Homo sapiens: one gene and its partners. The protein of the gene in region 2 interacts with the protein of the main gene of each other region in a biochemical or structural test. Each region holds a gene or a part of one and is shown on either strand. Other genes may lie near its edges.

The links.
Region 1: the proteins of ANXA2 (region 2) and TRPV5 form a complex in vitro, tested with the Homo sapiens proteins (one study listed by BioGRID).
Region 3: the proteins of ANXA2 (region 2) and CTSB form a complex in vitro, tested with the Homo sapiens proteins (one study listed by BioGRID).
Region 4: the proteins of ANXA2 (region 2) and PLAT form a complex in vitro, tested with the Homo sapiens proteins (one study listed by BioGRID).

What each region holds. Positions count from the first base shown.
Region 1 is NC_000007.14:142,930,725-142,938,608, forward strand, and holds the start of TRPV5 (transient receptor potential cation channel subfamily V member 5), read right to left. Parts: upstream 3,023-7,884; 5' UTR 2,736-3,022; coding exon 2,608-2,735; intron 1-2,607. UniProt on the Homo sapiens protein: Constitutively active calcium selective cation channel thought to be involved in Ca(2+) reabsorption in kidney and intestine. Required for normal Ca(2+) reabsorption in the kidney distal convoluted tubules.
Region 2 is NC_000015.10:60,352,983-60,360,005, reverse strand, and holds part of ANXA2 (annexin A2), read left to right. Parts: intron 1-2,769; coding exon 2,770-2,860; intron 2,861-4,007; coding exon 4,008-4,087; intron 4,088-5,792; coding exon 5,793-5,852; intron 5,853-7,023. UniProt on the Homo sapiens protein: Calcium-regulated membrane-binding protein whose affinity for calcium is greatly enhanced by anionic phospholipids. It binds two calcium ions with high affinity. May be involved in heat-stress response.
Region 3 is NC_000008.11:11,844,078-11,851,100, forward strand, and holds part of CTSB (cathepsin B isoform 1 preproprotein), read right to left. Parts: intron 6,904-7,023; coding exon 6,789-6,903; intron 5,088-6,788; coding exon 4,969-5,087; intron 4,076-4,968; coding exon 3,990-4,075; intron 3,746-3,989; coding exon 3,602-3,745; intron 3,092-3,601; coding exon 2,975-3,091; intron 1,713-2,974; coding exon 1,584-1,712; intron 1,146-1,583; coding exon 1,048-1,145; 3' UTR 1-1,047. UniProt on the Homo sapiens protein: Thiol protease which is believed to participate in intracellular degradation and turnover of proteins. Cleaves matrix extracellular phosphoglycoprotein MEPE. Involved in the solubilization of cross-linked TG/thyroglobulin in the thyroid follicle lumen.
Region 4 is NC_000008.11:42,183,548-42,190,570, reverse strand, and holds part of PLAT (tissue-type plasminogen activator isoform 1 preproprotein), read left to right. Parts: intron 1-1,499; coding exon 1,500-1,637; intron 1,638-2,554; coding exon 2,555-2,665; intron 2,666-2,998; coding exon 2,999-3,173; intron 3,174-5,398; coding exon 5,399-5,490; intron 5,491-7,023. UniProt on the Homo sapiens protein: Converts the abundant, but inactive, zymogen plasminogen to plasmin by hydrolyzing a single Arg-Val bond in plasminogen.

The DNA of each region.
Region 1 (7,884 bases), on a different chromosome or scaffold from region 2:
TCTGGAAAGAGTGGTCTGAGAGTCTCTAAGAAGAGGACCCTAGGCTTGGCTGAATTCATCTAACCTGAGTAACTGTCTCAGATCCTGGATAGTTGGAGAGCGGGACAGAGGGCACTTCCATCTGCGGTCCCCCTGCTCCTGGGCCTGCTGAATCTACTGTCTTTAACCAAGGGGAGTTTGGGAGACCAAAACACAGAGGGAGGAGGAATGGATCGACTGCTAGATCTTTCCTAGGCATTTTGAAATTTGTGAAATTTGTGAGGCACTAAAGTTCTGACTACTCCCTCAGGCTATTTTTTTTTTTTTTTTTTTTTTTGAGACAGAGTCTTGCTCTGTTGCCTAGGCTGGAGTGCAGTGGTACAATCTCAGCTTACCGCAGCCTCTGCCTCCCAGGTTCAAGCAATTCTTGTGCCTCAGTCTCCCGAGTAGCTGGGATTACAGGCACGCACCACCACGCCCAGCTAATTTTTTGTATTTTTAGTAGAGATGGGGTTTTGCCATGTTGGCCAGGCTGATCTCGAACTCCTGAGCTCAGGCAATCCGCCTGCCTTGGCCTCCCAAAGTGCTGGGATTACATTGCGCCCAGCATCCTCAGGTTATTTAGATACAGGTCCCTGCAGGGGGTGGAGAGTTGTGGGGTGAGTTACAGGGTGCCTCTTTCTTCTGCATTATACCCTTAGATGCAAAGGTCTAAACAGCTTGTTTATGTGGGTGTCTCAAGGCAAAACAGGTTGAGATACTCATTCTACAGGACCTCTGTTAATCTTTGCTTCTACCATACCCAGATTTGAACCCAGAAAGAGATAAAGCTGGAGCCTCTCCAACTAGACATATGTGTATTGGCCCCAAAGGCAAGCACATGGTGTAGGGGGAAGAACAGAAAGGACAGGCCGATGAGTGGCTCCTCTGAGGTCCCCACCTCCAAATCCCTCTCTTCCAATAGCCCCAGGAGCCAGGGCGAAAAAGTGTTTTTATTTTATTTATTTATTTTTTTTGAGACGAAGTCTCACTCTATTGCCCAGACTGGAGTGCAGTGGTGCGATCTCGGCTCACTGCAACTTCCGCCTCCTGGGTTCAAGTGATTCTCCTGCCTCAGCCTCCCGAGTAGCTGGGACTACAGGTGCCCACCACCATGCCTGACTAGTTTTTTTATTTTTGGTAGAGACGGGGTTTCAGCATGTTGGCCAGGCTGCTCTCGAACTCCTGACCTCAGGTGATCCACCCATCTCGGCCTCCCAAAGTGCTGGGATTACAGGTGTGAGCCACCACGCCCAGCCAAAGTGTTTTCATTTAAAGAAGAAGCTTTTAATCTAAAGGTGGGGCCTGGTTTTACCTGTTAAGGCAGTGCTCCTAGGAGGGGCCTTTGTGAGGAGTCAGTTCCCTGCCCCGTCTCACCCAGGGAATCAGTCCCAGGGAGCCTGGTGTCCCTGACCAGCCTAGAGTGGTCAGGGCTGAGATTGCAAATTCACCCCCATCCTGAGGCCACTGCACAAACAAAGTCCTTGCCTCCCTGGCCCTCTATCCCCACTGCCCCTCTGCAGAGGGTCCAAGTTGGGGCTGGAAGCTCACTTTCTCAGAGACCCAGGGGTCCCACTCTAAAGCAGGAAGGTGAGATTCCACTGGAGGTATTGGGTGGGGAGATGAGGAAGCAGAGGGCTTGACAGTATGAGGGCTCAGAGGTACTTGGGACCAGGCCCAGTGTAAACTGCAAATGCAGGACCCCTTGTTCAAAATTATTAAGAACTTGAAGATGAGGACAGCAGGGCATTGAACAAAGCACAGGAATCTTCTGGAGTACAGGGGAGCCCTTTGTGACTGCTAATGTCTGCTCAACAACCTCACCCCTCAGGCAGCTGTTGGGTGGGAGGCAAGCCCCAAAACACTTGGAGGAAGAAGCAGCCCACAGGATTCGTCCCTGCCCCAGCTGCTCTTCCTGGGACTGGACCTCAGGGCTAAGCCATGAAATGATTTACCTGCAGGTGTGCTAGCCCTGCCCGAACTAAGAGCTCTCCAGGAGCAGGCACAAGTCTCATTCAATCTTTATGTCATTGGGATCTAACACCCCTCTGCACACAGTAGACTCAATAAAAGGCAGATGGACTGAACTCAGAGCCCTCCAGTGTCACCTGAGCTGCCCTCCTCCACTGGTCAGCACCCAGTGTTACACCAAACAAAGCGCTCCTCCCCTTTCCCACACAGTCCACTTTCATTCAAATGAATGGCGTTTCCTTATCGTGCTTCCACCACCCACAGGAGTGCATCCCTTCTTCAGCAGCCTGCTTCTGCCTTCCCTCCCCATCCCACACAACCTGGCTTCTTCCCTCTGGTCCTTTTTGGTCCTTTCACTCCCCCTTGGCTGTCATTCTGCCTCTGTCCTTAGGTCTACCCTCAAGATTTTCCTGTGTGGCCCAAAGCCACATCCTCCACCGCCACTAAAAGGGGCCAGCTGGGATTCTGTAATTAGGTGGGCTGGAAGGAAAGGGTATGTCTGAGTGACTGGCACTGACAATACACTTCTAGGGTGCTGTATTCGGAAAGCAGGCCCAGGTGGGTCAGAGGGTCTGAGGATCACGGCGGTAGGGCCACGGATCGTTCTAGGAAGCCTACCTCTTCTGCTGCAGCATATGAAGCTTGTCCAGGTGCTGGTCCCAGTCTTGTTCTCTGACCAGAAAGGAGGGCAGAAGTTTCTGGAGTTGGCTCCCGGGCCCTTCTGCCTTAGGTAGAAAACCCCCCATGTCTTCTCCTTGCAGACACTGGCAGATTATAGAAATGTGGCGAAAGAAACAGGTCTAGGATGACAGCAACTGAGCAAGAGATGGGGTCTATTTGGGGCTGGGACTCTGAGTTTATCTCCTGTATGACTTGTGTATGCAGCATGCAGCTTGTAGGTGTGTGTGTGTGCATGCAGTATGTGGGTTGTGGGGTGTGCGTGTATGCACAGTGTGTGGCTGTGGTGTATGTGTGTGCATGCAGTGTGTGGTTGTGAGGTGGTGTGTGTGCATGCAGGTGCGCTGAGGGGACTGACCGCCCTGCCTGGGGAGAAGTGCTTTTCCTGGAGGGGGAGGAGCTCTTTGCAGAGCTGAGCCCCACAGCCACAGAACCACCCTGGGGAAGAAAAGGAGGAGGGGAAGGAAGGTTCCTAACTGTGGGCTGGGATGGCTGAGACCCGAGAAGCTAAGAGGTGGGGCAGAGGAATTTGGAAAAAGAAAAGGGATGGAAGGTGGGTCCACAAACAAGGTGCACAGTTAGTTGCATGAGGGAGAGGAGGAAATAAAGACTTCCAGCTCAAGAGTCAGGCAGAGCCTGGTTCAAATCCTGACTCTTATCCCTTACAGTTAGGTGAGCTTTCTGAGCCTCAGTTCCTAACCTGTGAAATTGGGGTAACGGCTATGCCGTCTCACGGGAGCATCTGTAAAGCATGTGTCACAAGTACTCAATCACTGCCGATCCTCCTTCCACAAGAGGGCTCAAGAGACCCCCGGGCTGCTTCTCAGAGCTTCCCATTTATGTGTCTTGTGGTCATCTCTGTCCTCAACCCTGTACCTCAAAGGAGGGTTTCTGACCCCCACTTCCCAGGCCAATCCCTCTCTGTGAGAAGTCCTCATGACCGTGACCGGCCAGCTTCCTGGAGCGTCGCCGAGCAGGCTCTGGTACCTGGGGACGCAGGTCAGAGGAGCCCCCAGGGGCCTCGAGTTATTATGGAGGTTGAACAGCAGAAACTGAGCAAAGGTAGACGACAAATAAATCGTGATTCCATGTTTGGGACTCTTTCCAGGAATGAAACACCAGGAGGAATAAGTAATGTTGCACTATTTTATATATTTTATATTATATTTTATATATTAAGTAGTTTCCCTTATCCACAGTTTCACTCTCTGATGGTTCAGTTACCTAAGGTCAGCCACAGTTGGAAAATAGGTGAGTACAGTACTATAACATATTTTGAGAGACAGAGAGAAAGAGAACATTCACATAACTTTATATTATTATAATTTTCATTTTATTGTTGTTAAACTCTTTTTTTTTTTTTTTTGAGACAGAGTTTCACTTTCGTTGCCCAGGCTGGAGAGCAATGGTGTGATCTTGGCTCACTGCAACATCCACCTTCCAGGTTCAAGTTATTCTCCTGCCGCAGCCTCCCTAGTAGCTGGGATTACAGGTGCCCACCACCACGCCTGGCTAATTTTTGTATTTTTAGTAGAGACAGGGTTTTACCATGTTGGCCAGGCTAGTCTCGAACTCCTGACCTCAGGTGATCTGCTTGCCTCGGCCTCCTGAAGTGCTGGGATTACAGGCGTGAGTCACTATGCCCGGCCTAAACTCTTCACTGTGCCTAATGTATAAATTAAACTTCATCATATGTATGTATGTATGTATGTATGTATGTATGTATGTATGTATGTATGTACGTGTAGGAAAAAAGATAGTATATACAGGGTTTGGTGCTATCTAAGGTTCCTGGCATCCACTGGGGCGTCTTGGAATGTATCCCCTGAGGATAAAAGGTGACTACTGTATATGATAGCTTGTATTTATGTTCTCATTTTTTTTATTATTATACTTTAAGTTCTAGGGTACATGTGCACAATATGCAGGTTTGTTACATATGTATACATGTGCCATGTTGGTGTGCTGCACCCATTAACTGTCATTTACATTAGGTATATCTCCTAATGTATCCCTCCCCCCTCCCCCAACCCCACGACAGGTCCTGGTGTGTGATGTTCCCCTTCCTGTGTCCAAGTGTTCTCATTGTTCAATTCTGTTCTCATTGTTTTCAAAGAGGTACATCAATATTATTGAATTGCATTCACTCAATAGACCTATCAGGTAAATGAGAACAAGGAAGAATTCCGTCTGTGAGAATTCTTGGGTGTGCTGGCCCCAAGTCCCATGGCTAGTGGCGAGACTGTAACTGGCCATGAACTTGGGATCTCAGCTCCAAACCACTCTCCAGACCTTGTTGCTTCTTGGGAATCTTTTGGCTGTAAAGGTGTGAGAGACCAGCGTGAGGATACGCTGGGACTCTCCCTCTGGGGGTCTTGAGGAGTGGGGACTGCCCCCTTCTTTTGTTGTAAGAAAGAGAGATCTGCTCCCAAGATTGAGGGATGGACAAAATAACCTTTAGAGAAGGACAAGAATTGAAAGGAAAATAAATAAGGAAACTAAGAGGAGCTAGTGTTCATTGATGTTTCAAAAGGGGGAAAATTTGGATCTTTTTCTTATTAAAAGCCAAAAGGAAAAGTTAAGTAAAAAAAAAAAAAGATACAGTGGAATTATGTTCTCACTGGGAGTGGGGAGGGCTCAACTTGTGGGACATTTTTCTGCCTCGCTGGGGGTGACGCCCTTGTGGAGTGACTTCCAGTCTAAGGAGATGGAGGGAGCGATAAGGGTGAGGTGGGGGTTGTAGATGCCTTGATAAGCGAGGCAGGTCAGGAAAGGAGCACCTGCCAAGGAAACTACAACCCATAAAGCTGGTCCTGGGGCGGGGGGGTTGGGACATGGGGGGCCGGCAGGGGAGGAGGCTGGCCCAGTCTGAGCTGCACAGAGCAGGTGTGCAGGGACTTGCCGCCAAGGGCATGTCCAGGGGTCTGGGGAAGAGAAAGGGGAGGCCCAATGCTCAGGCCCCCCCACCCGCCATCCCTGGGCCTTCGCCCTCTCACTTGCCCTTCTCTGCCTACCTCGTCCTCTCCAGTGGGAAGGGCATGGACAAGTAACCTGGGTGAGGACCATGGTGTCCCCCGGCAGTCCCAGCTGGTAGACCAGAGATTTGGAGTCTCTCCTGTTCTCTCCTTGCCTTCTCTCCAGACTGTTTCTTCCTCTTGTGATATTCGACATCACCATTCTATTTTTCCTTTTCTCTCCTTTCTTTTCATGCCTCTCTCAGCTTTCTGCAAGTGAGGACATCTGCAAACTCTCGCCTTCAGAGAGCAGCTTCCCTGCCACTGATGAATGGTCAGTAATGCCTCCAGGCACTCGGGAGAACTGGGCTGGGGGCACCAAACTACACCGTCAAGTCCCAGAACCCTTCACGCCAAAGCAGCCTGACCTCTTATTCTAACATAATAAAGAGGAGGAGGAACCATAATACCTAGATTTCCATTTTTAAAAATTACACTCCCACCCTACGTGGCCACAGCCATCTACGAAAAGGATTCAGGGCCGGATGCGGTGGCTCATGCCTGTAATCCCAGCACTTTGGGAGGCCGAGGCGGGCGCCTCACGAGGTCAGGAGTTCGAGACCAGCCTGGCCAACATAGTGAAACTCCGTCTCTACAAAAAAAAATTAGCTGGGCCTGGTGGCAGGCACATGCAATCCCAGCTACTCAGAAGGCTGAGGCAGGAGAATCACTTGAACCCGGGAGGTGGAGGTTGCAGTGAGCTGAAATTGCGCCTTTGCACTCCAGCCCAGGCAACAGTATGAGAGACTCCATCTCAAAAAAAAAAAAATAGAAAGAAAGAAAAGGATTCAAATACCATACCTTAAAACTAACTGTGGCCAGGCGCAGTGGCTCACACCGGTAATCCCAGCACTTTGGGAGGCCGAGGCGGGCAGATCACCTGAGGTAGGGAGTTCGAGACCTTCCTGACCAACAGAAAGAAACCCTTTCTCTATTAAAAATACAAAATTAGCTGGGTGTGGTGGCACATGCCTGTAATTCCAGCTACTCGGGAGGCTGAGACAGGAGAATCACTTGAACCCAGGAGGTGGAGGTTGTAGGTGAGCTGAGATCGTGCCATTGCCCTCCCGTCTGGGCAACAAGAGTGAGACTCCATCTCAAAAAAAAAAAAGTGATTATCACTGGATGGTGGAATTATTAGCCTTTTTGGGGTTTTGTATTTTTCTATATTTTCTACTTTGTAATAAGAAAAAATATTTAAGGGATTCCCTGTTTTCTGCAAGAATTTATCTCTTTTAACACTGCGGAGGTCAGGCGGGTGGTGGTGGCAAGGAAATGGAAGTAATGGAAACAACTCAGTTATTTCCACTCAAGCCTGCCCGGGAGGCAATTCTCACCCCAGCCGCCCTCCCCATTCATTCCCACAGAGCTGGAGATGGCTTCTCTTTTTGCCAGGAAACCAAGAGGCTGCTCCCCCAAAATAGCCAGGAGGGAGGAGATTAGTGATGGTTTTTTCCATTCAAGCATCATTCTTTGGATCTCACGTCAATGGGTTCAAGGTGGGGTGAGCAGGGTCACCTGCCTACTTGAATCTTTCCTTACTCACCTTCAAGCGACCTCCGTACCACTCCCTAGTCCCTTGTCATCTGGCTTGGACCATCAGGAAGTGTGTAAGAGATGGTGTCTGCTGTATGTGAGACAGCATCCATGTGGGCATGTCTGCTAACACGAGTAAACTCTGTGGGAAAGCATCTCTTTGTGTGTTTCTGTCTGCAGTTCCCTCTTGCAGAAAGGGTGCCTGTCTCCGCAGTGTCCTTGGACCTGCATGTGGTATTTCATTCAGGTCTGGTATGCATGGATGAGCAGGAGCAGTGTGAACTGGTTATGAGAGTTCAGGAGTGACTAAAGTCTTCTCTTACCTGTCTTAGCAGCCATCCTGCATCTAATGGCCTATGTCTCTGTTGCTGGTTTTCGAAAAAAGGCCTTCATTCTGTCTCCCTAACTCACAACCCTCCAACCATCTCTGCCCAAGAAGCAGTTGGGGGTGATTACCCACAGCCGGTTACTGCCAACAGATCTGTGCTCACCAGGCTCATGGGCAGGAGGCGCATCCAAGTACTGAGGCAGGATTCTCCCAGATCTGTTATTTGGGATCCTAGACTCCCTGCCGCACTGCGGCTTCTCTGCAGACTCTAACTCCTTTTGCCAAGCAATGAGGTTGGAGATGAGCCTCTAACAACCTTTTCTTTCGTCTAAGAGTACA
Region 2 (7,023 bases):
GGATTACAGGCGTGAGCCACCGCGCCTGGCCAACATCAAGTTTTATATAAATGCAATAGATGCACACACATTAATGTATGTTGTACTGCAACACATTTGGACCCTTTTCTTAGTGTGGGTCTGCAGCATTTGAACAGTCCGACACTGCCCTCTGCTGATATACATGGGTAAAGTCTGCGCTGTAGATGAGGGAAACCATTGGTCTTGATTTTTTATTCCGAGTCTGTTTTCTCTGATGCCACTGTTCCTGAATTATGAACAGTCTGAGCTGTAAGCCTGTCACCAGAGCTAATGTCACAGTTCAGTTGTCATCCTTTTCCCAGAGAACACAAGAGTGAGGGTGCTTCGGACACTGGGCATCTCCAAAGCCTGGAATTTGATAGCTCAGGGCTGCTGTAAGATTTGTTGTTAAGTCTCTTTCTTCCTTTAGTTCTTCAGCTTAGCCCAAGCTGTGCTCAGTTTATTTTAGCGGACTTGTCTGAGTTTCCTAAGTAGACTGTACTGCAGAAAAGACGTCATTAAGAATGATAAAATGTCGACAACATTTCATGATCCTGGTTGATAAAAATAGCGCTCCTGAAAACCGAGTCTGTGGACCTTTGGAGGCAGGGATGAGTCAGCCTCTCCTAGGTTTCTTCTGACCATCAACACTTCAGATCAGTTTGTCTTATTTTCATCAAGAATCTATTTAGTTGTGATTCGAGTGGCTTTACTGGTATCTATTACTAGGTATTAGGGACTTGAAACAGACCTTTTTGAGCTGTCAGTCACTGTTGTAATCTATGTAATTGGGCCCAATGGAAGGTGCTTTAACTGCTGAAGCTTTGACCCTGTGCCAGCTCTTCCATTAGCTATCACAGTTGAATACCCGTCCAAAATCCATAAAGCTTGAAGTGACATTAACTGAACTATGCTTAAAAAAAAATCTGTTTTGACTTCTGGCAGTACCGGTGGCAGTATCTGCCATATGTTACAGTAGAATTTGCCCTTGTGATAGGAATTGTGGACAGTCTGTGGAGAGTTTGGGCCGGGCTTTGGAAATTGCCAAGGTCACCTTTGAATGTAGACATAAAAACACTATTGGAATTCTCAGATATTACCACTGGTATATCAGTGATGGAAGGAAACACATCTTACATTATTCTGCCTGTCTTGCAATTCTACAATGTCAGGATATAACATTTCTCCCACTGTGTGTTATTTTTAGACTATATTTCTATCATCCTTGAGATTGAACAACTGCCTCTCAAAATATTCAAAGATACTCGGTAGTCATTTAATAACATTTGTGTAGAATGCTGTATGGACCTTTTGCTAACAAGGGGAGAATTTTTGGCTTTGCTGGAACCTCTACAAATCATGATTAAAAACTCAGAAAGAAGAGCCATTGGCTCAAAGGTTAGATGAAGAATAAAATTCAAAATTAACCATTAACCTGAGGCTTAGCTTATATTATACAAACTACTTTTTCGGGGCATATAAACGCTAATAAGTTTAATTAATAGCTGACACGCTTTTCATGTGGGTAAGTTTCTTATTGTATTAACACCTTATAATTGATTTACATTTTAAACAGTTGTAATTCTACTTAGTTCAAAGTGATAGTTCCATATTCGGAAAGACAAGTATTAAAGAATCCTGATTATTAAATCTTGACTTTGATCATGAAGCCAGCTTTGAAATACATGTTTCATTGAGTCCTTTCAAGCTATCTGACATGCTCAAAAGTGTATATATTAAATTTGAATACATCACCCATCAAATTCTTATTCCTTAATAAAGTGTTGGTGTCTAGGTTTATTTGGCACTTCATTATTTCTTTTTGCTTCCCTAAAGTGCCTGAAGAGTGCATAATTATCAAGCAAAAATGGAAGGACAAGAATGAAATTTTTAACATTAACCCAATTTTACATTTCAAAGAGTGCAGCTAAAAATTTTTTCTTAACTATACCTTTGCCTGGTAAAAAGACTTACTCTAACAATGCTGGCTGCAAGTGACAACATAAAATTTCTGTATTCCTTTATTTTAGCGAGAATTGTTTAACAAAGAAATTTCTAATCTGTTAAAATAGTGAGTGGTTATTGTAGAAAGTGAAAAATAATAATAAGAAAAAGTTACTTTATCTACCCACAGCAAAAGGCAATTGCCAGTTTTAGTATTTTGGCATATTCTATTGCTGCCTCTTCCTATTCACTACTTTTTTTTTTTTTTGAGATGGGGTCTTACTCTGTCGTCCAGGCTGGAGTGCAGTGGCGCGATCTCGGCTCACTGCAAGCTCCACCTCCCAGGTTCACGCCATTCTCCTGCCTCAGCCTCCCAGGGTAGCTGGGACTACAGGCGCCCGCTACCATGCCCAGCTAATTTTTTGTATTTTTAGTAGAGATGGGGTTTCACTGTGTTAGCCAGAATGGTCTTGATCTCTTGACCTCGTGATCTGCCTGCCTTGGCCTCCCAAAGTGCTGGGATTACAGGCGTGAGCCACTGTGCCCAGCCCCTATTCACTACTTAAAAAAAAAAACCATATTAACAGTTGAACTCCAACATGCCAGTTCCACCATCTTGTGCTCTGGTGAAGCATTTTTTAAAGGAATAGAAAATGCCATTACTTTGTGCTAAGGGGTAGGAGTATAGATTCTTCAGAAGGAATGTAGAAAGCAGGATGCTAACAGACCCAATCCATGTTTGCAATTTACTTGATGGAGATCAGAGAAGTAGGCTAATGGTGGGGAAGCATTTCCCTGCTGATGTTCGTGCTTCCTGGTTCACAGGGGCTGGGAACCGACGAGGACTCTCTCATTGAGATCATCTGCTCCAGAACCAACCAGGAGCTGCAGGAAATTAACAGAGTCTACAAGGAAAGTGAGTAGCTTGATTTCTGTGATTCATCCTCTCAGCCCAATTTATGTGACTCTATCATGGCCACTGGGGTTAGGGTTCGGGCTAAGATGCCTGCATTAGTGATGTGCAGAAGTGCCTGCCACCTTGACTATGCAGGCAAGGTTGGCTGTGGTCCAAGTTTCTCTCCTTCACCTCCTCATTGCCTGCATTTTGATTATTACATTCCACTAGAACTTCTGTGTTAGAAGAAGGGTAGACAGGAGGGAAAGGAGAGAAAACAAAACTTGTTTTTAAACAAGATCGGATGAGGAGAAGTAGCAAGTATTATATATGGATTCCACTTATTGGGCGCTGTTCAGTGTCTGCTCAAGAGGTTGCCAACTCTGGACTGTGGATAATTGAAGAATTACAGCAAGAGACCCCTGTGGACTGGTGCACACTTAGCAGTATAGAAGGCTATGAGGGGAATAAACAATGCAACTTACATCGCTACTGCATTTCTTTTTTGTTTTACTTTTTAAAGTTATTATCATAGTTTTACATATTTTGGGGGTACATGTGATATTTTGGTACATGTATTATATATAATATGTAATTATCAAGTCAGGGTAATTGAGATATCCATCACCTCACACATTTATCTTTTTTTTTGTATCAGGAACATTACAGTTCTTCTCTAGCTACTGTATTTCAATATAGATGCTATTTTGAATATTGAAATATACTTTCATTCAAAAGCATTGTTTAATTCTTAGTAGTTTTTGCCGCTGTGCATTTTCTCAGTGGACAGTAAAGCACAATTGTGTGTGTGTGTGTGCGTGTGTAGACCTCCAATTTTTTTGATGTTCAGAACAAGTACTCACAGTCAGGAGGGCTGGGAGCCAGTATTTAAACTACACGAGAGGTCACCAATCAACGGTGAGCCTGAGGATCCCTGATTTGATCTAGCCCTGCTGCCCCCTGTTATGGATAATAACTCTGGCTCTGATTTCATGAGGGCGAAAATCATTCTAGTGAATCCTTCCTCTGTTTGGGGTTAAGGAGAATGGATATGTCCAGCTGACGTAGCTGTTCTGCTTCTCAGAGTCTTAGTGGGAAATGGGGAGATTGGGGTGGATGGTTGGCTACACAGGCAGAAAGCATAAAACCAGATGTATTTTCCTCCAAGTGTACAAGACTGATCTGGAGAAGGACATTATTTCGGACACATCTGGTGACTTCCGCAAGCTGATGGTTGCCCTGGCAAAGGTTGGTTTCCCAGTTTCTTTCTTTGCCCTTGCTTCCTCCCAAGGCAAGTCACATACCTCATTTTATACTTGGAGTGAATTAACTAAATCCCCTGTGCCTGCATCAGAAATTCAGCTGCATTTTTGAAAGTGGGTTTGCACTGTCACTGCAGAGTTGTCAATTTTGTATAATAGGATTTCTTATCCTGCAAAACCTCATGGACAAGTGGACTTTGGGAGCCAGAGAAGGGATGGGCGGCTCTCAAGTCCTGGCCTGGATTTATGTGCCAGAGCCTTGGCCGTGTGACTTAGGGAAGGTCACTTTGCCTCTATCTGTGGTCATGCAGGACCCAGTGGGAAGTGACCTTCTGGTTTCTTTTTCACTGCGTTTACTTCTCATGGAAGAATTTGCCCATATAGTCCTTTGTCTGGGGTGGAGTTGTCTTTGTGGAGCTGATTGCTAATATTAACACATTAACATGGAGGAAGGGGCATTTCCCCTGTGAATCCCTAGTTCTGGCCAGCGTGTAGCTTAATACTTATGTGCCAGGGGAGGGACGAGAGACCCTGGGAACCCTGATGACAAATGACAGATAGTGCGTCCGGCCCACTCACATCTCCATTACTGCAACAACTCCTATGCCATTCTCCCTCGCTCTCCTCTCTTCGCTACCACCTGCCCCATGTACCACCATCCACGGATCTCTGTGAAATACACTTTCACCATTTTACTCCTCTGTTCAAACCCCATTTCTGCTGCATCAAATTTAAACTCCTAACTGCTGTGAAAGGTCCTCTAAACCCTCCCTGCATCTTCTTTGCTCATCTTTCCCGCTCAGCTCTGCTCTGACAGGGCAGCTCCTTACTTACCTGAGAGCGTGCTGTGCCATCCCTTGTGTGCCAGCTGGCTCTCCCGCTCTGCTTGGCTAGCTGCATCTGACTGACCCTTGAAGTTTCAGCTTAAGCCCAGGCCCATCGTTCACACTCTTTGCTGACTCTGCCCTCTGAGAGTTCTTCCTCCGCCCGCATTTTGTGTCTTTCTAGTGCTGTGGGTTCCCGGGCTGCTTTACATTTGTTTCCACATATTCCTCCATCTGCATTGCAAGCTCTCTGTGAGAAAGAGCTAAATCTCATCAGCTTTTTGTGGGGGATGGGGACAGGGATTCTGTAAGGTGTGTAGGCCAGGACTGGGTATCAAGGGGGGGATTGTTGATGGCAAGGCACAGCCCCCACTTCCTTGCTCAATGATTTTACCACTCCTTGGCTGGTCTAGGTTTCTTTTTCTTTTTCTTTTCTTTCTTTCTTTTTTTTTTTTTTTTTTGAGACAGAGTCTCACTCTGTCACCAGGGTTGGAGTGCAGTGGCGTGATCTCAGATCACAGCAACCTGGTTCAAGCGATTCTCCTGCCTCAGCCTCCCGAGTAGCTGGGACTACAGGCATGTGCCACCACGCCTGGCTAATTTAGTAGAGACAGGGTTTCACCTTGTTAGCCAGGTTGGTCTCCATCTCCTGACCTCGTGATCTGCCCGCCTTGGCTTCCCAAAGTCCTAGGATTACAGGCGTGAGCCACCGTGCCCGGCCCCATCTATGTTTCAAAGTAAGAAAAATCTTACGTGGTTACTTATTTAGGAAATTAAATAATGGCGTACATGGACTGGGGAGAAAACATTTTCAGTTTTAAAATACACAAAGAAATGTATTTGAAGTTCTTTTTCTTTCCCCCATAGGGTAGAAGAGCAGAGGATGGCTCTGTCATTGATTATGAACTGATTGACCAAGATGCTCGGGTAAGTGCTGAGCTTTTTGCTTTGAGTTTTTGTTTTCTGGTAAGTCTCTGGATAGTCTATATAGTAATTTAACTCTGTGTGACAAATGACTCCCAAACTCTGTGGCTTAAAACAACAAACATGTATTATTTCTCAGTTTCTGTGTGTCAGGAATTGAGGAGTAGATTAGCCCAATTGTTCTGGCTCAGGGTCTTTTCTGAGGTTGCAGACAAAATGTTGCATGGCTGCAGTCACCTGAGGGCTTGACTGGGTCAAGGGAATCTGCTTCCAAGATGGTGCACTTCACATGACTGTTGGTAGGAGACCTTAGAATCGCTCCACATATGCCTCTCCATGGGGTTGTTTGAGCGTCCTCACAACATGGCAGCCGGCTTTCCCCAGAGCAAGCAATCTGCAAAGAGGAAGCCACAGTGTCTTTTATGACCTAACCTCAGGAGTCCCACCTTGCACTGCTGTCATACTCTTTTCATTAAAAGTGAGTCACTGAGTCTAGCCCACACTCAGTGGGAGGGGATTAGGCTCTTCCTTTGGAAGGGAGGAACCTCAAAGAATTTCTGGCCGTATTTTAAACCCACCATAGTCTGACAGCAATGTTTATTAGAAGACATTCTCTTATAATGCTGGTGTTACTTACAGAATCAATACGTGACTCACATATGCTCACTCAGGCTTTGCTTGTATGGAAGCATCAGTTTCTGCAGAGTGTAATGTGGCTGTGCATACCAATCAGGCAGGCAGGTGGGAAGCAGAAGAAGGTGGAGGAGACACAGCCAGGGACAGGATGGTGTACTGCTCTGTTGTGGTGGGGGAGAAAGGGAGGCCAGCAGAGACCTGTCCTTTTCTGGCTGAATAAGACTTTTGCCAGTTCTAGTTCCATTATCTCTGAGAACTATTTGTTAAGCTTATTCAGACTGCAATGAACTATATTCTTTACTCAGAGGGACAACGATTATCTCAAAGTAAGTCATAAAAGCTGCAGAAAAAAATTAATTTAAATTAATGTTAGTTTTAAAATTCAATATATTCCACACGGCACTTCTAGCAGGTAGTAGAGAAGGGTTTTAAATAAAGTAATAGAAGTTGGGTTTTGCAGTTCCTAGATGGTGGAAGATCACGGAATGAATATCTACCCTTGCATAAGCCTTTCTTCCTCTTGCCCTCCCTGCCATTG
Region 3 (7,023 bases), on a different chromosome or scaffold from region 2:
TTAAGCAAGGGCAAGCTTACCAGGCACTTACAGAGAAGGTTGACGAGGATGACAGGGAACTAATTGGGGGAGGGATGCCATGGTTGAAAACATGGCTGGGGCAGCGAGAAGTTAAGATGAAGTCCCAAGAGTCGCAAGAACATGCAGTTCCAGGACGTGATTCTCTGCAGGGACAAAGAGAGACAGCAGCTACAAGTCTATAGGCAGTGACAAAGGATCTGAGATCCCATCAGAGTAGACTTCAAGTTGGAGAAAACTTTTATTGGCACAGGCATTCCTTGTTAACTTGACAGGGTGAAGCTGTAATTTTTCAAAAACAGTAAAAGCTGGTTTCTCCTAAACTATTTTCCTTGTGGTAGTAGAGATCAGTGGGTCAGAAACAACTCCTGACCACTTGGTTTCCTTTTGAGCCGCGTCATAAGGAGGCAATCTGTAAAACTAGCACAGGTCTCCCGCTGTTCCACTGGCTCACCCACATGATTAGCAGAGTGCACGAAAAAATAAAACTTCTATTAAAGAATCATGCTGAGCACAAGATCAGAGAGGTTGTGACATTGCAAACTCGATAGATGCAGGGGGCCTGGGAGACTGGCGTTCTCCAAAGGGCTCCCAACACCGTCTCTCCTCTGATTTCTGTGACAAATGTGGAAAGCTACTTGCTTGGAGGTACTGGGGGAACTGATGGGGGAACTTTCATCCTGTTAGGAACTCCGCTTTCCATTCCTGCGTCTCTGTCTTGCTCCCTGGAGATGGATGGATCACGGAGGGGGCCACAGTCAGCTGGGGCAGCAGGTACTCCCTACGGCACTAGTCTACAGGGGGAAGGACGCTCTGTGCTGGCAGCGGTGGCTCACATGGCCTGTCTGCACTGTAACCACAGGCTGGGATGTAGCCAGGACTTGGTCTCCTTGGAAGACAGGTCTGATGTTTGGCCAATCCAGTCCTTCAGACCCTGTCTGAAACTTGTATCTTACGTGAACTTAAAGAATAAAATGCATTTCTACCCCGATCTCGCCCCCAGGACTGGCACGACAGGCCCACGGCAGATTAGATCTTTTCCCAGTACTGATCGGTGCGTGGAATTCCAGCCACCACTTCTGATTCGATTCCACAGTGATCCTGTCCTCTGAGTATTTTAAAGAAGCCTGGGAATAAAAAGTAAGGTGCTTTTAAAGTGTGACAAGGGTCAACCAATATAGTCAGACTCATCCTTAAAAGACCTTAAGTCACTCATCCCTGGCCACTCCTGCTGTTGGCCCACTAGCACAGTCCTCAACACCACAAGGCTTCTGGAGCCGTGGGGCACACCTCCACGGGCAAGCCCCCTGCCCGGTCACCCTTCCCATCACAGGATCTGGCGCGATGCTGTGGGAACTGTTGCAGGCGTTGGCTCTGAAGCTGCTCAGAGTCTGCCCTCACAGCAAAAGGGAACTCCTGACTGCCTGGCACTTAGGAGGAGCTCACAGCCTGGCCGTAGGTCCAGGGTTTAAGGCTGTGCGGTGGGTAGAACAGAGAAAGCCGAGATGGCCACGGGGTGTGGCTCACAATTCACTGTTCTTGGCAGGAAGGGGGCAGCCACTCACCATTGTCACCCCAGTCAGTGTTCCAGGAGTTGGCAACCAGCCAGTAGGGTGTGCCATTCTCCACTCCCCAGCCCAGGATGCGGATGGCATGGCCACCCATCATCTCTCCGGTGACGTGTTGGTACACTCCTGAAAAGGGAAGAACTGGCTGAGACCGAGACCGGGCCACTGTCCCACGCCCCACAGCACCCCCCACACTCAGCTGGTCATGCTCCGGGAAGGAGAAACAGCTTCCAGAGGGAACCTGCTGCTCCACCAGGAGGCTCCAGGGGGGGTCCCACAATACTGGGGAATTAAATATATTTTTGAAGGCCCAACACACTCAAAGTTGTTGAGTAAATATTGAAATAGATTCCTACAAAATGTGCTTGTTGGCTTTAAAAATAGAATTTCTAATACATTCTAATTGATAAAACATTTAATGCTAGATGACTGATTCATCTGTTCTTTATACTGGGATTCCATGTAAGTAAGGGTTTGTCAAAAGCGTTACACGGCTTAAAGAGTTTTAATAGCTGCTCCAGGTACACCCTGAAGAGGTGAGGGAGGAGAAGGGAGGACTGGTGGCAGCTAATGCTAGCTGATGGGAAAGATACTGGCTAAGGGGCTCAGGGCTGCCCAACCAGGCTCTCGGGTGGGGAAATCACTGTCAAAGTGGAAATGCATCTTTTAATAATAAGGGCGAGGACTATGCTAAGAAGTGCCATCTTCACAGAAACTTTTTCTTGCCAGAATCATCTTCCTTTGTCAAACTGTTGTTTTACAAGTTTCCAATCTAGCAAAATATTAATGGGATAGATGCAGTCAGCAAAGACTGTTCATCTGGAGCAAGGGATTTCTAAGACAGGACTTGGGGATGGGGACTGTCCAGATTCCTTGGTTGGAGTCCCTATGGCACTACCCAGGGCAAGGTCCTCCCTGTGTGTTCATCCACTGGTGTGAGGCACGATCTAGGCCTTTGCAAAGAGAAAGATGAAGAAAATGTGTCAGCCAGTGCAAACACGAACGGCCTGCCATTATAACAGAAACATGCTGGTAAAGCAATGCAAAGCCAGGAAGGCGAGGGCAGGCGTGGCCAGCCACCAGGGAGGGGGGCGTTCCCACAGAGAACATGTATGAGCTGGACGCTAATGGATGGGAAGGAACTAGCCCAGAGGCTCTGGGAGAGGCCTCTGGAATTGTGTGTGTTGGCACAACACCTGGACAAAGACAGTCAGGTGCCAGGCTGGTCCACAGAGGAGTGAGCCTATATGGAAGGCCCCACACAGCCCTCTTCCCCAGCCCCTCACCTGCCTGCCCAATCCAGCCCTATTGGTCAACATGAACCATCCTGGCACCCAGGCTCCCCTCCCGACCCCCACCCTCTATTGCCATCAGCCATCAGCACGCACCTGACTTGTAGAGCAGGAAGTCCGAATACACAGAGAAAGCTCCCTCCACGGGGCCGTTTTTGTAGATCTCGGCCATGATGTCCTTCTCGCTATTGGAGACGCTGTAGGAATTGTATCCTGGAAAATGAACCGAGCTCGGGGTTGGGGAGGGCAGTGACCGTGCCTCGTGGCACGCCACGGTCAGCCAGTCACTGATTTCTGGTGGCCTCCAGGGGAAGACTGCATCTAAGGGGACTTGCCCTGCCAGGGGAGCTCAAGGAAGGCTCCCCTGAAGAACTAAGGACAGGGCTGGGGCTGGAAGCTCAGAAATGGGAGAACGGAGCAATGAGCACGAGGCCCCGGAAGAGGCCAGGATACCTCAAGACTCCAGGACACGCCACTCCCTTGTAAAAGGAGGGCTTTGGTCCCTTCCAGTTTGGAAGGGCTGAGGCTGAGTTCAGGGTGGAACAGGCAGAAAGTGGAGAGTGTGCTGCTTCTCCTGGCAAGAGGGCATCACTCCCCCTCCTCTATCCTAGAGTTCCGGGACCCCAAGGCTCCTCAGCCCTGACCTCTTCGCTGCAGCGTGAGGAGGGATGCAGCAGCTCCCCAGCCTCCACGTGCGCCGTGGCCAGGCCCCAGGCCCCTTACCGTAGTGCTTGTCCTGTTTGTAGGTCGGGCTGTAGCCAGGCTCACAGATCTTGCTACACTTGGGGGTATCTCCCTCCCCCGTGCATGGGGGCCGGGAGCCGTTGACGTGGTGCTCACAGGGAGGGATGGAGTACGGTCTGCACCCTGATGGGACGCGGGAGAAAGCGGAGTCAACCTACAGCCCCCACGGAGAAGACCTGGGGCAAGGCAAGCCTCGTGCCTGCAGCATGGACGCCAGGCAGGTCCTGCCAGAGGCCTGTGCACCTGGCTAGCACCTCTCAGCAGCCCCTCTGTCTCAACCCCCAGTTTATAAAGGCAAATAAAGCCATGATGGTTAATTGCTCAAACAATCCATCTGGCCAGAAAGTGGCCAAGGGGACACACTTACCTACATGGGATTCATAGAGGCCACCAGAAACCAGGCCTTTTCTTGTCCAGAAGTTCCAAGCTTCAGCAGGATAGCCACCATTACAGCTGAAAAGACAGCCTCTAATGAAAACCTCTGAGAGAAGCACCACCAGCTCTCCAGACCACTGTGTGCTACCCAAGTGCCCGAGGCCACTCGTGGACCCACCCCCAGCTGCAGCAAGTGGTGCGAGCAGACCTCCCAGACCCCAAACCCTCCAAGGGACGCTCCCTAGATAAGCACAGCTTGCAGGGAATAACCGCCAGCCCCACCCCTGCCCACAAAGATCCGGGAGAAGACAGGAGGCTCTCCTGTTCATGTCCATACCAGACCAGGCTACGAGTGCCCTTCCGGGTAGAACACTGATTCTCAACTGAGCAGACGCTAAACTTCCCTAAGGTACTTAAAAACACCACCAGTTCTCTGAAATGAGAATCGCCAGTGATTCCCATTTAACTAGTTAGGGGAGAAGCCCATGCATTTTTTTAAGCCCTCAGGCATTTCGGATCTGCAGCCGCCAGTGAACACCGCTACTGCGGAACCAAGGCGAGGCTGCAGGCAGCTGGAGCAGAAAGTTCTGTGCCACCACCTTGTTGTTAAGGTGGAGCCATCCCCGCTAACTACACATAAGGAAATGCCCCAAACTGGTTCCCCAAGCAGGAAAAAGGAACATGCGATGACACAAACCAGACCAGGGGCCAGACATTCCACCACATTTTCTGAAACTGACTGTTTTGCTGGGATGCCACCCCTCAGACAGCTCTGCCGGGCCAGCCTTGGTTCAGGCACCTCCCAGGAAGCAGCAGCCTTGCCAGGCCCTGCCTGCCAGACTCTCGGAGTCTCCCCGAAACACTTCTGACTCGCAGCAGTCCCAGGAAGTCCTCAAAGTCCCCTCCACTGAGAAGCTGGGGCCCAGGGTCTCTCAGCACTAAACCCGCTGTGGAAGCACAGCCTGACTCACCCGTCCCCACACATGCTGCCACAGCATGTGAGCAGGTCCTCCGCCGACACCTCCACGCTGACGTGCGCATTGGTGTGGATGCAGATCCGGTCAGAGATGGCTTCCACAGCCCCGAAGGCCTGCAGGAACGAGCCCCACCGGGTGAGGCTGCCATGTCCGGGCTGGGCCCTCTGCAGCAGTCCCCTCAAAGGGCCACAGGGGCACCTCAGACCTTGTAGGCAACTGATCTCTCAACACCAGGGGACGCTCCTGGGGCTCAAACTCAGCTTTTATTTTCTTTGGTAGAAATGGGGTCTTGCTACGTTGGCCAGACTGGTCTTGAACTCCCGGGTTCAAGTGATTTGCCCACCTTGGCCTCCCAAAGTGCTGGGATTAGAGGCGTGATGAGCCACTTGCCCCACTCTCCTGCCTCAACGATTTGCCCAACTCAGCTTTTAAAGCAAGAGAAGCACCCCCGTGAACCTCTGCCTGGAAACTGGGTTCATTTCTGAAATCTGCAAAATGTGTAGTATTAGTTTGTATGTGTGTGTGTGGTTTTTTTTTTTTTTCCTGGAGGCGGAGTTTCACTTTTGTTGCCCAGGCTGGAATGCAGTGGCGCAATCTCAGCTCACTGCAACCTACGCCTCCTGGGTTCAAGCAATTCTCCTGCCTCAGCCTCTATAGTAGCTGGGATTATAGGTGCCTGCCACCAGGCCCAGCTAAGTTTTGTCTTTTTAGTAGAGACAGGGTTTCACCATGTTGGCCAGGTTGGTCTCAAACTCCTGACCTCAGGTGATCCGCCTGCCTCAGCCTCCCAAAGTGTTGAGATTACAGGCGTGAGCTACCGTACCTGGCTGTGTTTTTTTCTTAACAAAAAACACAGCTCACCCAGAAAATAAATACTGTTGTGATCCACTTGTATGAGGTCCCTAGGAGTCAAATTCATAGAGACAGAAAGTAGAGTGGGGCTTACCAGGGGCTACAATATTGGTGTTAATGGGGACAGAGTTTCTGTCTTGCGAGCTGAAAAAGAGTTCGGGGGACAGATGGTGGTGGTGGCTGAGCAACACTGTGAATGTACTTAATGCTACAGAACTGTACACTTGAAAATAGTTGCTGGGCACGGTGGCTCACGCCTGTAATCCCAGCATTTTGCGAGGCCGAGGAAGGCAGATCAACAGGTGAGGCGTTTGAGACCAGGCTGTCCAACATGGCAAAACCCCATCTCTACTAAAAATACAAAAATTAGCTGGGCGTGGTGGCACATGCCTGTAGTCTTAGCTACTGGGGAGACTGAGGCAGGAGAATTGCTTGAACCCAGGAGGCAGAGGTTGCAGTGAGCCAATATCCCACCACTGCACTCCAGCCTGGGTGACAGAGCAAGACTCCATCTCCAAAAAAAAAAAAAAAAAAAAAAGAAAGAAAAAGAAAACAAAAGAAGATTGCTAAGATTATTACATTTCTGTTACGTGTATTTTACCACAATTAAATGACAAAATTAAGACAGCTCACTGACACTAAAGGGATGCTTTCTTGAAGCAGAGTAGCAGTGAGAGCTCCTGGTATTTGCGGACGGGCCAGCATGTCAGGGAAAGGGAGCTGCTTCGCCACCTGTACACGTGGACTTGCAATCTGCTGGATGCTCTGCCCGCCACTCCACCTAATCCTCGCCATCATTCATGGCCAGAGGGATTGTGATTTTTGTACTGATGGAAACTGGGACTCAGAAAGTTTCTATAACTTGCCTTGTCAGAGTTGTCCCCACCCCGAATCCCCCAAGACTCTCCAGTGTTGCTCCCACTTTCTCTCCAGCGCTTCCCCGCCAGCCAGCAGGGCCTTACCCAGCAGGAGCCACAGGAGCCCTGGTCTCTGATCTCTTTGATGGTGGGACACTGTGGCCATTGTTCCCGTGCATCGAAGCTTGCAGGCAGCTTCAGGTCCTCGGTAAACATAACTCTGGATAAAGGAAGGTCTTCATTACAAGCTCTGATCCCACAACTCCCTCCCCAATCCCTGCAAAGGCCACTTTGGCTGGGCCACACTCCCCTAACAAGGAAATGAGCACAAGACATGCCG
Region 4 (7,023 bases), on a different chromosome or scaffold from region 2:
ATCCTGGCCTCAGTGACCTCAGAAGCAGCAAGGGTCTGACTTACAGTGGGCACGTGCTACTTCTTTAATTAATTGAAAGTAAAGTTGTTGTTTTTTAAGTTGGCATTCTGGCTTGAAAACAGAAAGATGGCATGAAAATATTAATGGGAGTACTTCAACTATTTTCATTATGCCAAAAATACTTGGAGAAGTAGCACATTTTCTGCAAAGTCTAAAATGTCAATTTTCTTTGGGGCCAAAAATGCATCATTTCTGTGTGGTAATACTTATGTGGATAAAAAACTCTGGTAGACAGTTATGCATATATATATTTTTTGGTGAATTACAATGAGAAAAAGTCCAGGTGCAATGGCTCACATCTGTAACTCCAGCACTTTAGGAGGCGGATCCAGGAGGATGGCTTTAGCCCAGGAGTTCAAGACCAGCATGGGCAACATAGTGAGACACCTCTGCCTCCCCCACCCCACCCCGCCTCTACAAAAAAATTTAAAAATTAGCTGGGTGTGGTGGTGTGCACCTGTAGTCCCAGCTACTTGGGAGGTTGACGCAGGAGGACTGCTTGAGCCTGGGAGGCAGAGGTTGCAGTGAGCCAAGACAGCACCATTGGACTCCAGCCTGGGTGACAGAGACCCTCGAAAAAAAAAAAGAAAAAGAAAAGAAAAGAAAAAATTAGGCTGGGCACGGTGGCTCATGCCTGTAACCCCAGCACTTTGGGAGACCGAGGTGGGTGGATCACTTGAGATCAGGAGTTCGAGACCAGCCTGTCCAATATGGTGAAACCCCGTCCCTACCAAAAATACAAAAATTAGCCGGGCATGGTATCGGGCACCTGTAATCCCAGCTACTCGGGAGGCTGAGGCAGGAGAATCACTTGAACCCAGGAGGTGGAGGTTGCAGTGAGCCGAGATTGTGCCACTTCACTCCAGCCTGGGCGACAGAGTGAGACTTTGTTTCAAAAATAATAATAATAAATAAATAATAAATAAATAAATCATATGAGAAGATACTCAATGGCACTCAGAAAAGAAATGCAAATTTATTTTATTTTATTTTGAGATGGAGTCTTGCTCTGTCGCCCAGGCTGGAGTGCAGTGGTACAATCTCGGCTCACTGCAACCCCCACTTCCTGGGTTCAAGCAATACTCCTGCCTCAGCCTCCTGAGTAGCTGGGATTACAGGCACCTGCCACCATGCCTGGCTCATTTTTGTATTTTTAGTAGAGATAGGGTTTCACCATGTTGGCCAGGCTGGTCTCGAACTCCTGAGCTCAAGTGATTCACCCACCTCGGCCACCCAAAGTGCTGGGATTACCAGCATCAGTCACCGTGTTTGGCCAGTATTCATTATCTTGTTGTCTTCCAGTTGTGTCTCTTCAATAAGGGAGTATGCAATGGAGTCTATAGAAAGCAAGTGAGGGAGTTTTCTCAGTAGGTGCAAGGGTAGTGAGGCATTTCATTTTGAGTCATACTCTGATGAGGCTGGCCTGTCTTTTCTCATAGTGATCTGCAGAGATGAAAAAACGCAGATGATATACCAGCAACATCAGTCATGGCTGCGCCCTGTGCTCAGAAGCAACCGGGTGGAATATTGCTGGTGCAACAGTGGCAGGGCACAGTGCCACTCAGTGCCTGTCAAAAGTATGTACTGAGGCTGGGAGGTGGTGCATGCCTGTGATCCCAGCACTTTAGGAGGCCAAGGTGGGAGGGTCGCTGGAGCCCGGGAGTTCAAGACCAATCTGGGCAAACATAGCAAGTCCCCTGTCTCTACAAAAAATAAAAAAATTAGCCAGACCTGGTATGTAGTCCCAACTACTTGGGAGGTTGAGGCAGAAGGATCACTTGAGCCCAGGAGTTGGAGGCTGCAGTAATCTACGATTGTGCCACTGCATTTCAACCTCAGTGACAGGGCAAGCCCTCACCTCTAAAACAAAACAAAACAACACAAACAAAAACAAAAACACAGAAAAGCCCAGTACAAATCGACTTCAAACTGAGACTTCGAGTTCAGGGGTCCAGTCATGAACCCTGTCTTTCATGGTCCCCGGAAAGTTCAAATCTTCAAAAGGAGCCTCCAGGCCTGTTCGGCCTTAGGCGGAGGTGAAGGTACAAGCAGAAAAGGGAGCAAGACCAAGTGACCTTGGGCAAATGCCCGCTTGCCTCAGTTTCCTCATCTATAAAGAGGTGGGAATAACAGTACACACTTCATGGTTTGCTGTGAGGATTAAATTAGCTAATTTTTGTAGACTGTACAACAGCGCCTGGCACATAGAGCACATTCTTAATATTTTAACTCACATCATCCTTGGAGCTGCTTTGAAAATACAGGGGACCCTTGAACAACACTTGTCTGACCTGCAGGGTCCACTTATGTATGGATTTTTTTCAACCAAAGGCAGGATGAAAACAGTATTTGTAGGATGCAGAACTGGTATACGCGTGTTCCACGCTGCAGGACTTGAGTGTGTGTGGATTGTGGTAGACAGGGCTCCTGGAACCATGGCCTGAGCACACAGAAGGAGGCTGTCATTAGGGGCTTCCTTTTTTATACTTGACAGGTTGCAGCGAGCCAAGGTGTTTCAACGGGGGCACCTGCCAGCAGGCCCTGTACTTCTCAGATTTCGTGTGCCAGTGCCCCGAAGGATTTGCTGGGAAGTGCTGTGAAATAGGTGAGTAGGTGAGAGCACGTGAAACGAGCTGAAATCCCACCTCTCCAGTCTCCCCCGCCCCCGGAAGGAAAGGCAGGGTGCGATGGCAGGGCCAGGGGTGGGGGCCAGGGACAGGGAAGGCGCTTCTGCCATGGGTCAGGAAGCACAGTGCCACACAGCAAGCAGAGCCTAGGTGTGACCCTGAATCCAGGCTGGCACCCTTGCCACCCAGCCTGTGGCTTCCGAGCCAGCCTGCATCAGGCCTGGGGGAGGACGGGGCAGAGAGGGGAGCCTCCTGAGGGCTGAATGAAAGGGGACTCCCATGTGAGGCATCCATGCCCTGCTCTCTGTCAGATACCAGGGCCACGTGCTACGAGGACCAGGGCATCAGCTACAGGGGCACGTGGAGCACAGCGGAGAGTGGCGCCGAGTGCACCAACTGGAACAGCAGCGCGTTGGCCCAGAAGCCCTACAGCGGGCGGAGGCCAGACGCCATCAGGCTGGGCCTGGGGAACCACAACTACTGCAGGTGAGGGCACATCCCCAAGGAGGGATTCCCCCTGTGAGAAGCTGCTACAGCTGGGGAAAGATTCTGTCAGATCCGTCAGGGTTCTCCCAAGAAACATAACCAATACAGGATGGATAGATGGATAGATGATAGACAGATAATAGATGATAGGTGATAGATGATAGATTGATAGATGATAGATGATAGGTGATAGATTAGATAAATAGATGATACATACATGATAGATAGATGATAAATAGACGGTAGATGGATGACAGATAGACAGATGATAGGTGATAGATAGATGATAGATTGATAGATGATTGATAGATAAATAGATGATAGATACATAGATGATAGATGGTAGATAGATGATAGATGGATAGATGATAGATGATAGGTGGTAGATGATAGACAGATGATTAGAAAGATAGATGATAGATACATAGATGATAGACACATAGATGATAGACAGATTGACAGATGATAGATGATTGATAGATGATTAAATAGATGATACATAGATGATAATGATAAATAGATGATAGATGATAGATGATAGGTGATAGATAGATTGATAGATGATAGAAGATTGATAGATGATAGATACATAGGTGATAGTAGATGTAAGATGATAGATGATAGATAGATAGATGATAGACAGATTGATAGATGATAGAGAGATAGAGATAGAGAAAGAGGAGAGAGAAATAGAGAGAGAGAGAGAATGTGTGTGAACCCAAAGTATCTGAGACAGGTCTCAATCGATTTAGAAAGTTGATTTTGCCAAGGTTAAGGACACCCCCGTGACACAGCCTCAGGAGGTCCTGAGGACATGTGCCCAAGGTTGTCAGGGCACAGCTTGCCTTTAGACGTTTTAGGGAGTCATGAGACATCAATCAACATGTGTGAGATGTACATCGGTTTGGTCGGGAAAGTTGGGATAACTCGAAGCAAGGGCTTCCAGGCCATAGGTAGATAAGAGACAAAAGGCTGTATTCTGAGTCCTTGATCAGCTTTTCACTGAACACACAATTGAGTCTGGCTCAGTTCATCTGCATTTTTACATAAAAAATAGGGCAGAGGAAGCAATCAGATACGCATTTGTCTCAGATGAGCAGAGGGATGATTTTCTGTCCTGCACCTGGGAAGATAAGCTATCCATTTACAATGCCAAGGTGAAAGTCAACAGAACTGTTTTAGGGTAAAGATCTTTAGGCCTGCAAGGAATGTCCTTGTAGAGAATTAAAAAAAAAAAAAAAAAACTTTGCAGCTATCTTATTGAGGAATAAATGAGAGGCAGGTTTGCCTGACGTAGTTCCCGGCTTGACATTTCCCTTGGCTCATGACGTTGGGGTCCTGAGATTTATTTTCCTTTCACACTAGATAGATAGACATTTATGTTAAGGAACTGGCTGACAGGATCGTGGGGGCTGGCAAGTCCGAAACATCTTGGTAAGCCAGGCTGGAAGTGCAGGCAGAAGCTGAGGCTGCTCTCTTAAGGCAGAATTTCTTATTCAGGAAACCTCATATTTGCTCTTAAGGCCTTTAAGTGATTGGACGAGGCCCAACTACATTATCTAGGACAATTTCCTTTTCTAAAGTCAACTGGCTGTAGATATTAACCACATCTATAAAACACTTTCACAACTCCTAGATGAATGTTTGGTTAACTGACTGGGTGCCACAGCCTGGCCAAGTTGACATATAAGACTATTCCAGTCCACACCTTGTCAATTTGGCACCCATGTGCATCTCCTTAAACCATCCTTCACCTCCAAGTAAACACAGGAACAAAATCATACTCCTGCCTAACATGATAGAACTACCAGTGTACAACCAAAAACGCACTCCCGGCTGGGCGTGGTGGCTCACGCCTGTAATCCCAGCACTTTGGGAAGCCAAGGCAGGTGGATCACCTGAGGTCAGGAGTTCAAGACCAGCCTGGCCAACATGGTGAAACCCTGTCTCTACTAAAAATACAAAAATTAGCCAGGCATGGTGGCAGGCACCTGTAATCCCAGCTACTCGGGAAGCTGAGGCTGAAGAATTGCCCAAATCCAGGAAACGGAGGTTGCAGTGAGAGGAGATGCGCCGCTGCACTCCAGCCTGGGATAAACAGCGAGACTCTGTCAAAAAAAAAAGCACCCCCCATTCCTCCAGAAAAGGATACCAAAGTCCTTGGGTCCTAAAGGAGAGGCTTCACCTTTGACCTACCCTGGCCCTTCCCTTGGCTGATTTTTCAGAAACCCAGATCGAGACTCAAAGCCCTGGTGCTACGTCTTTAAGGCGGGGAAGTACAGCTCAGAGTTCTGCAGCACCCCTGCCTGCTCTGAGGGTAAGTGGCAGCCACCCCGCCTTTCCCTGAATGTCCCTGGGGGAGGAAAGTCCAGGAGGACAGGCCGATAGCCCTCCTGCACCTGAGGGGAGAAAGGGGGAGGCCAGGAGTGAGTCATTTTGGTTGCAGAGGGAAGAAAGACAGGACTTAGGTCTGTGCCTGGGCTTGGCCTCTGACTGGCTATTTGTCTGACCTGGAGCTGATCTCCTCACACTCTGACCCTCAATTTCCTCCTCTATGGAGGAGAGGATGGGGCTGAATCAGTGGTTTTCAGTCCTTTTGAGAATGAATGGAGATTCTCCCTTTTTTGATTAATGGGTGAATGGGGCTTTGTCTCTCTTTCGCTCCCTCTCAAACTTTTTAATGCAAAAAAAAAAAAAAAAAAACTTCCAAGATTGAAAAAATATATATTAAGTTACAAGACCAGGCACAGTGGCTTATGCCTATAAACCCAGCACTCTGGGAGGCTGAGGCGGGCGGCTCACCTGAGGTCAGGAGTTTGAGACCAGCCTGGCCAACATGGTGAAACCCTGTCTCTACTAAAAATACAAAAATTAGCCGGATACGGTGGCAGGCACCTGTAATCCCAGCTACTCAGGAGGCTGAGGCAGGAGAATTGCTTGAACCTGGGAGATGGAGGTTGCAGTGAGCCGAGATCATGCCACTGCACTCCAGCCTGGGTGATAGAACAAAAAACTGTTTCAAAAAAAAGAAAAAAATGAAATGCTAAGTTACAGAAAGGTACTATGAATTCAGTGGTGCTTATACAAATCATTACGTTACTTATCACATTTATCACAGCACTATGAAAGATTTTTTTTAAGTTCTAAATATATATAGGGCCAGGTGCAGTGGCTCGTGTCTATAATCCCAGCACTTTGGGAGGCTGAGGCGGGAGAACTGCTTGAGCCCAGGAGTTTGAGACCAGCCTGGGCAACAAAGTGAGACTCCATCTCTACAAAAAATACAAAAATTAGTCAGGTGTGGTGGCTTGTGCCTATGGTCCCAGCTGCTTGGGAGGCTCAGGTGGGAGGATCGCTTGAGCCCAGGAGGTTGAGGCCACAGTGAGCAATGATTGTGCCACTGCACTCCAGCCTGGGTGACAGTGAGATCCTGCCTCAAAATAAATACATAAATATGTGTGTGGGTGTGTGTATATATATATGTAATACACATATATTAAATTTATATATGATATATATAAACACGCACCAGCTATATGCATTCAGCACCCAGGTCCACGGGTGATGCCTGTGACTCTGAAGACTTTACAGTCACTCTACAATATCCTCCCCATCCCCCATGGTCTGGTCTAAATGAGGACTCGCAGATCTAGATAATCTTGAAAATCCCTTCCATTTATGGTATTTATGTATAGAGGTATGCTTTGTCAGTTTCAGGTCGGGAGAAAAAAATGGAAAAATGGGGGAAATAAATGAAAACAGGCAGCACTCCACGGCTCATACCCTCCTCCTTCCCAAGCCCATCATCAGATCCTCAGGACACTGGCAGACACAGTCCGAGAAATAACCC